Homo sapiens: one gene and its partner. The protein of the gene in region 2 interacts with the protein of the main gene of each other region in a pairwise test. Each region holds a gene or a part of one and is shown on either strand. Other genes may lie near its edges.

What was found.
Region 1: the proteins of PPP1R1B (region 2) and TFCP2 interact in binary tests that used the Homo sapiens proteins (3 or more experiments, as listed by UniProt).

Annotation. Positions count from the first base shown.
Region 1 is NC_000012.12:51,107,093-51,110,904, forward strand, and holds part of TFCP2 (alpha-globin transcription factor CP2), read right to left. Parts: coding exon 3,785-3,812; intron 2,182-3,784; coding exon 2,029-2,181; intron 255-2,028; coding exon 144-254; intron 1-143.
Region 2 is NC_000017.11:39,625,592-39,629,882, reverse strand, and holds the start of PPP1R1B (protein phosphatase 1 regulatory subunit 1B), read right to left. Parts: upstream 2,932-4,291; 5' UTR 2,491-2,931; coding exon 2,410-2,490; intron 1,381-2,409; exon of another isoform or gene 1,177-1,380; intron 714-1,176; coding exon 653-713; intron 344-652; coding exon 321-343; intron 1-320. UniProt on the Homo sapiens protein: Inhibitor of protein-phosphatase 1.

The DNA of each region.
Region 1 (3,812 bases), on a different chromosome or scaffold from region 2:
TGTTAAGGCCGCTGGACACAGAATCCATGTGATACTGTGTCCCTCAAGGCTTAGGAGAAGTAAATTCTGACCAGTTTGGAAGTGATGAATTTTTAAGATTAAAAATTATGAACTGAAATTGTCACCAAAAGAAATCTTTTTACCTCTGTGAGTATGGTTGTCTCATAGGAAGGCTGATATTTCTCCTTTTCATGAGGTGTTCGTTTCTCCATTTTTTCCCTATCCGTTTTTTGCTTTCTGTCTGCACCTTTGGGCTGAAATGAGAAATATTTTGTTTTAAATTCAGGTACTCACCTTTTAACCCAAAATATTGCTTCCAAAAACTTAAATATTCATGTATGAAACAAAATTGTATGTGCAGTGATGTAAAGGCAAGACACATCACTTTAAGTTTGAAAATAGGAAATTTAAATGTTTATATTCGATGGAGTTGAAAAGAATCAGATCTATAGCTACTGACATGGAAAGATCTCTAAAGCACATAGTTCACTGAAAAAAATCAAGTCTCAAAACATTTCTTTCTTTTTTTTTTGAGACGGAGTCTCATCCTGTCACACAAGCTGGAATGCGGTGGCGAGATCTTGGCTCACTGCAACCTCCGCCTCCAGGGTTCAAATTATTCTCCTGCCTCAGCCTCCCCAGTAGCTGGGACTACAGGCGTCCGCCACCACACCCAGCTAATTTTTTATCTTTAGTAGAGACGGGGTTTCACCATTTTGGTCAGGCTGGTCTTAAACTCCTGACCTTGTGATCCGCCCACCTCGGCCTCCCAAAGTGCTGGGATTACAGGCATGAGCCACCGTGCCTAGCCTCAAAACATTTCAAATAGTATAATCCCATTTATGTGTCAAAGAAAATATGTATATAGCTATGTATGTGTGTGTATAAAAGCATAGGAAGGAACTAGAAGAGCTGGGCGCAGTGGCTCATGCCTGTAATCCCAGCACTTTGGGAGGCCGAGGCAGGCGGATTGCCTGAGGTCAGGAGTTCGAGACCAGCCTGGCCAACATGGCGAAACCCTGTCTCTACTAAAAATACAAAAAATTAGCTGGGCATGGTGGTGTGTGCCTGTAGTCCTAGGTGCTGGGGAGGCTGAGGCGTGAGAACAGCTTGAACCCAGGAGACGGAGGTTGCAGTGAGCTGGCACTGCACCACTGCATTCCAGCCTGGGTGACAGAGTGAAACTCCGACTCAAAAAAAAAAAAGAAGAGGGAAGTAGAAGAACACATACGAAATTATGAAATTATGACAGTGGTTTCCTCTGGGAAGAGGTTGTGGAGGGGGTCAGTGTAAGAGTAGTAAAGGGAGAATTTCAGTGTTGCTATGAATACCTCTGTATTATTCAATCTCTTACAATGAGAACATATTTATTCATGTGATAAAAATAAACAGGACCCTGGCTGGGGCACAGTGGCTTACACCTGTAATCCCAGTACTTTGGGAGGCCAAGGAGGGCAGATAACTTAAGCCCGGGAGTTCAAGGCCAGCCTGGGCAACATGGCAAGACCCCCTCTCTATAAAAAATACAAAAATTAGCCCGGTGTGGTGGCACATGCCTGTAGTCCCACTTACTGGGGAAGCTGAGGCAGGAAGATCAATTGAGCCCAGGAGGTTAAACTATGATTGCGTCACTGCACTCCAGCCTGGGTGACAAAATGAAACCCAGTCTCAAAAATAAATAAATAAATAAATAAGACCAAATAAGAAAAGATCAAGTATGAAAATAACCATAACTAGTCAATTTTTGTGAGCTTTACAAGAGCTTGTAACTTCAATAGGCTTTAAGAGCTTTCAATGAGAATCCATGTTCTTGCCTCTAGCCCTCTTTTCCAAGTTCCTATTATCCTACGACCATGTAAATTTCTTTACCAGGCATCTTGGTAATTATTTCAATGACTCTAGCTTAGACTTTTTGCGTGTGTGTGAGTTTTCAAAAAAAGACAAGTTGATTTTCTGACTTGGTAACTAATGTTAAAATAGAATGATAAGGTAAAAGAATCCAAGGGCCAGCACATTGCCCAGGAATACCTTGAAAACTTTGATCTGGCAGCTGGCCGAGTGTAAGTGCTCAGTATATTCCCCGTTTTCATTCTCCTTGAAGGTATCTATTTGTACTCGGAATGGCACCCCCTTTTCTCCACCATGTTTCCTCATAGTGAACTCTGTGCTAATACAGTGCACCTGAAAAGAATACAACAGCAAGGCTTCAGTACCGCTAGCTAGCCAAACCAGTTGGCAGTATTTTTTTAGCAACTATTAACAGCAAAACCTTTACCAGGCATTATGAATACCTACAAAAAACACTTTTCCTCTTTTTGATCTTGAAGAACTTACAATCTGATAGAGGAAATAGAAAAATGCTTTACAAATGCAAACAAAATAAAAGTACAGATCTAATGCTAACAAAAGCTACTGTGAGGAACTAAATTCATTAACTGCTTCAAAGAACACAGAGCTAGCAAAAGAGAAATGATTTATGTTAGTTAAAGTTTCCTCAATTTTAAGGAAGATTGTAGAAAGAGGAGTCACTACCCAGTCTGGGAACATAGTAAATATGAAAGTTCACAGCAATAGTGGAGAAAAAGGTTTGCTTGGCTACTGCATAAAGTCTAAGATTGGTGAATTTTTTTTTTTTTTTTTTTTGAGACTAAGTTTTGCTCTTGTCACCCAGGCTGGAATGCAATGGCACAATCTCGGCTCACCGCAACCTCCACCTCCCCGGTTCAAGCAATTCTCCTGCCTCAGCCTCCCAAATAGCTGGGATTACAGGCACACACCACCACGCCCTGCTAATTTTTGCATTTTTAGTAGAGACAGGTTTTCGCCATGTTGGCCAGGCTGGTCTCGAACTCCTGACCTCAGGTGATCTGCCTGCCTCGGCCTCCCAAAGTGCTGGGATTACAGGTGTGAGCCACGGCACCCAGCCTGGTGAATCTTAATAGAAGAACCTTGTCTGACTGACTACTCCACAAGATTATAGCTGAAAGTCTTAAAATCATATATATAAAGTGTTTACTTAACATAGTGACTATTTCATGTGAAGTATTAATAAACTAGTGGTTACTATAATTACTACAAATAAGGATTTTCAAGGACTCTACCCAAAGAACATAATCAGATACGCAAATCAAATTTTAAGTATAAATATGTTCAAAATAACATCACAGATAATAGTAAAAAATCAGGCCAATCAAGGCCGGGCATGGTGGCTCACACCTATAATCCCAGCACTTTGGGAGGCCAAGGTGGGTGGGTCACCTGAGGTCAGGAGTTCAAGACCAGCCTGGCTAGCATGGCGAAATCCCACCTCTACCAAAAATACAAAAATTAGCCAGGCATGGTGACATGCGCCTCTAGTCCCAGCTACTGGTGAGGCTGAGGCAAGAGAATCGCTTGAACTGGGAGGCAGAGGTTGTAGTGAGCCGAGATTGCACCACTCCACTCCAGATTGGGAGACAAAGCCTAGACACTGTCCCCCCCCAAAAAAATTATGCCAATCTAACTGCCAAATAATTGTTATGTAAATTATGGTACAACCAAGAAATGAAATATTATGCAGCCATTACCAAGCAATTTTGGGAGACACAAATAAATAAACTGGGGTATTAGAAGAGCAATTCAGAAACTCCTCAATGCTCTCAGGCACAGGTTAAAGAGCCTGGGCTTGACAGTCAGGCTAGAACCCTGTAAAGATTTCAAAGTTAACATGTTTTATCCTTTAAGAAATAAACTGATAGTAAGAGAGATACTCTTCAAAACTGGAACCCTATCTGCAACGCCTTACCTGAATAAACACAGATGTCCTCTTTGCA
Region 2 (4,291 bases):
CAGACTGATTTAGCCACTGCTAATGGGTCCTGCACCTAGGCTGAGCCTCCCCACCCTGTGGCTTTAGGGGGGGCCCCCCATAAGCCATGGCCTGGTTCAGGGCAGGACTCTAGGTCCAGGAGGTTCCACCCTGAGTCTGAGCAGAGGAGGATCTGCTGGTGGCACCCTGGCATGAGGCACTCTCAGAGGACTGCCCATTGATATGCTAATGTGTCCTCTTGGGTGGCACCCCATACTGGTTGGTTGTCACTGCAGGCACCCGTCCACCCCACCCCAAGGGGCCCAGGCATCCCTCCTTCCAGCTGCCCCAGGAAACTCACCTGGTGGGGGGAGGCTTCCTCCTCTGAGGAAGGCCACCAAAGCCAACCGAACCAGAACCAAGCGAGGAGGAAAAGAGAAGAGGGAGAGAGAGAAAGAATCCGAGTTATTTTCCCCAGGGTCTCAATCTCTGGGGACAGGGAAAGTGTGCCCTCTCCCTCCTGCGGCTGGGAGGTGTCATGTCAATAAATAAAGCCAATAGAGTTGGGTTCCCAGACCTTATCCACTCCCCAGTCTCCAGCTTTGACTCCTGTTCATGGGACTTTGGCAGGGCCCCTAGGAAGGCATCAGAGCTAGGGTGGGGCCAGGGCTAAGTGGGCAGGGAGGGGCCTACCTGGTGAGGAGTGCTCTGAGAGCCGGAACAGCATGGCAGGCGTTGGTCTCCTGCGCCGGATCTAAGGAGATGGAGGGAGGGGTGACTGGATGGACACCTGCAGCCCTCCCCCACCCCCAGGCAGCAGGGAACAAACAGTGCTTTGGAGTCCCCAGGGAACCTTTGAATCAAAGTCTGTCAGAGCCAAAAGGAACTCTGTAGCTCACCTAACCCCCTCATTTTACAGAGGTGAAAAAGCAGGGCTCAGAGAGATTTGGCAATGTGCTTAAGGCCACACAGCACAACAAGTCCAAAGGACGAGAAAAACCCCAGTCACTGACTCCCAGCCCATGCCTGTCCCACTCCATGGCTACTCCAGAACAGACATCTCCCTTCCTATCTTCTCCCACCAAGGCCCTTCCTCTCTCCAGTTTCTGAAAACATCAGACCTCGGAAGCCAAAGCTGGCTACAGCTCCAGCTGCCACGGCTGGGCCCTCTGGGGAAGATGCCCCACGGGCCATGGCACCCATGTGGCCCTGCCCACCTAAGATCAGCTCAAGGGCTTCAAACAAGCTGGATCCAGCTTTTCAGAAGGAGACTGAGCCAGCGCACTGCAGGCACCCCCCACCTCCAGCTGAGGCTCAGGGACCCAAAGGGGCCTGGGGGACCTCTCTGGGGGCCTTGGTTTGGGCTTCTTTTCCAGTCTCTGTAAGGCTGCAGAACTCTTCACCCAGTCCTTGTGAGAAATGAAAAGTTGCCCTCCTTGCTACGTGAGCCAAGCAGCAACTGACCGCCCCCCTCCCCGCCCCGCCCCTCAGCTTGGCAATCAGACCAACTGTCAGTTAATTAGGTCCCTGTTGAGCTCCAGGGAAATGCACAAAGAGAACCAGGTGAGTTAAGCTGAAACTGCCACCTCCCCAGCCAAGCTCCCCATGACACCCTCATGACCCAAAGCTGCTTAGGCCCAGGACTGTACCCCCTGCCCTCTATCTCCCCCCATAATGACTTGGCCCCCTCATCACTGCTCAGTGGGGAGCCAGCTGCATCTCAGCTCAGCAACAAGTGACCCCTGCTCCACTAGGGATGGGAAGTGGAGCTCTCTGTCACAGCACCCGCCAGCCTTTGGAAGCCCCTCAACCCCCAAGAAGGCCCTCAGGAGGACTCAGTAGTCTGTGGGAAGAGGTCTGGCTTTGTGATGACTCCCCACCTCTCCCTCCTTGGGGTTGGGGCTCTGGGGCCTGACAGCAGGAGGCCAGAGCCAGGTTCTGGAGACCCCAGCCCAGGCACACACGCGGGATTAGAGAGGGGCAGGGTAGTGGATTCACCCGGTGGCAGCCTCATACTCCTGCCCTGGGTGACAAGGTCAGTGTCCACCGCTGCTCACATCTGACCAGCTCTGGGACAGAGCCAGGCGGAGCGGTCCCGGTGGTAGCCTAGGAGACTGACTACCCTTTGGGGACTGTGCTGGGACCAAAGGACGCCCCCACCCCACTCCTGGGCGGTCTGGAATCGGCCTGTCCCCCCACCCCCGCACCCCCAGCCTCACTGCCAGGAACTCTCTTGCCCCGGGATCAGGACCAAAGCCGCGGGGAAAAGTTGCACGAGTCTCCAGCTAACTTCACACGCGGCCCCGCGCCCCGTCCTGACCGAGGCAGAGCCCGGCTCTCCTTGCGCCCCCACCCCCAGGCCAGTCCGGCCGGGGCAGCGCCTTGGGAGGGCGAAGAAGCCCCGCGGGGTGTGTCGGGTACGCTGCCGGGGTGGGGCACGGGCCCCTTACCATCTCCACCTGGCGGGGGTCGAGCTGGCTAGGGGGCGCGGGCACCGAGAACTGGATCTTCTTGCGGTCCTTGGGGTCCATGGCGCGCGGGGTGGGCGGTGGGGCTGGGGTGCGCGACTCGGGGTCCCGGCGGCGGTCTGTGCTGGGCTCCCCCGCGCAGGCGGCGGGCTGTGCGGCGAGAGGAGGAGGAGGGCTGTTCGCGCACGGATAAAAATACCGTGCCCGCCGAGGGGAGGGCGCGGGAGCGGGAGGAGGGTCGGCGCCCGGGCTGGGCGCGCCCCCAGGCTCTCGGGACTCGGGGCTCGCCCCCCGCGCTCGCTGAGCCAGGTCTGTGCCTCGCTCCCTCGCGCTCCCCGGCCTGGGTGTCTCTGCGTCTCGGTGTCTCTCCCCTCCTGAGTGTCTCTGCGTCTCGGTGTCTCTCCCCTCCTGAGTGTCTCTGCGTGTCTCCTCTCTCTGCCTCTCCCGTCCTTCTCCACCTCCCTCCCTCAGCCTCTCCTCCTCTCCGCGTGTGTCTCTGCCTCTGCCGGGCTCACCCTCCGGTCCCAGCTTTGGGGTCCCCAGCCCGTCCCCTCCGCCTGGGACTGGCGCCCGGGTGCTCGGAGGGAGGGTTTAGGGGAAACTGGCCAATGAGCATGGAGAATCGTGTTCTCCTGGGGCTGGGAGGAGGGTGGGAGTTAGAGCCAAGGCCTGGGGAGCCAGCTGGGGGGCCCCCTGCGGTCTCCCCAGAACTTGAAGCTGCATTATTGATGGAGTCCAGCAGAGAGGATAAAGGGGGAGGGAGGGGGAGAGGGGCAGCGGGGAGGCAGGACTCTGGCTTTAACCCCTTCGTGGTCCTGGTACTGGGAGTTTCAGAGAGGCCTGCGAGGTCGTGGGGAGAGTACCAGCCTGTCACGCTGTGAATGGGGGTGTCCTGGAAAGGGAGCGAGTGTGACCGAGTTGTGTGTGGGAGGACACGTGTCAGTCATCGTGGCAGGGAGAGTGTGCAGGGGTGTGCCGGGGCCCTGTGGTGCCCATAGCCAGGGAGTGTGTTTTGGGGGGTCCGGTGTGGTGTGAGTGTGTCTGTGTAAGTGTGTCAGAGTGTCAAAGATGCAGGTGTGAGTGGCAGGGTGTGGGAGGACTGCGTGTGTGCGGGGGAGGGTGTGGGTGTGGGGGAGGATGTCAGAGGCTGTCAAGGTGATGGGCAGGCGTGTGCCAGCTTGCAGGGGGTGGGGGACTGTATCCACAGCTCCGCTGTGCAGTTGCTGGGGTATGAGGTTGTGGATGTGTGAGCGCTCCTGTGAGGGAGAAGGGGAATGTGCCCTGCCATGATGTACTGTAGATTCACGTGGCTCCTGTCTTTCCTCTCCGGATCTAATGGGGTGGGGAGGACAGGGCCGGCCCAGAGTTGGGGTGGGTTTGGGGGCTGCCTGTACACGTGCCATCACGTGCATGAATTTGGTGCATTCAGAAGCAGGGTTGGGGGAGACAGGTGTGAGCCTCTCTCTCTCCAGAGGTATTTGTGTGTGTCTCTGGAGCGGGAGCGGGAGGAGCTGGCCCTGTGGGTGGAATGTCCCTGTCTATTTGGTCTATTTGTCCGGGCCTTGGGTGCCTTTGCAGGAGCTGCTGTTTCCCTCCTTGGAGCTGTGCAGAGGGTCTGAATGCTTCTGTCTAGCACTGAGAGGGTGTGTGTAGACGTGTACATGCATGTTTTCCTGGGGCTCTGTTTGTGTTGGCGTCCTCTCTCCTGGTCACTCTCAGGCCTGAAACCCCCAATCCTCCTGCAGCTTTTCCACTCCCAGCCCCAGCATCTGGGTCCTGGGTGGAGTGAAAGGCCAGAGGAATCTTCTGGAATTGGGGTCAGGGCCCACTCTGGGGGTGAGGGAAAGGGTGGCAGGAGGTCCAG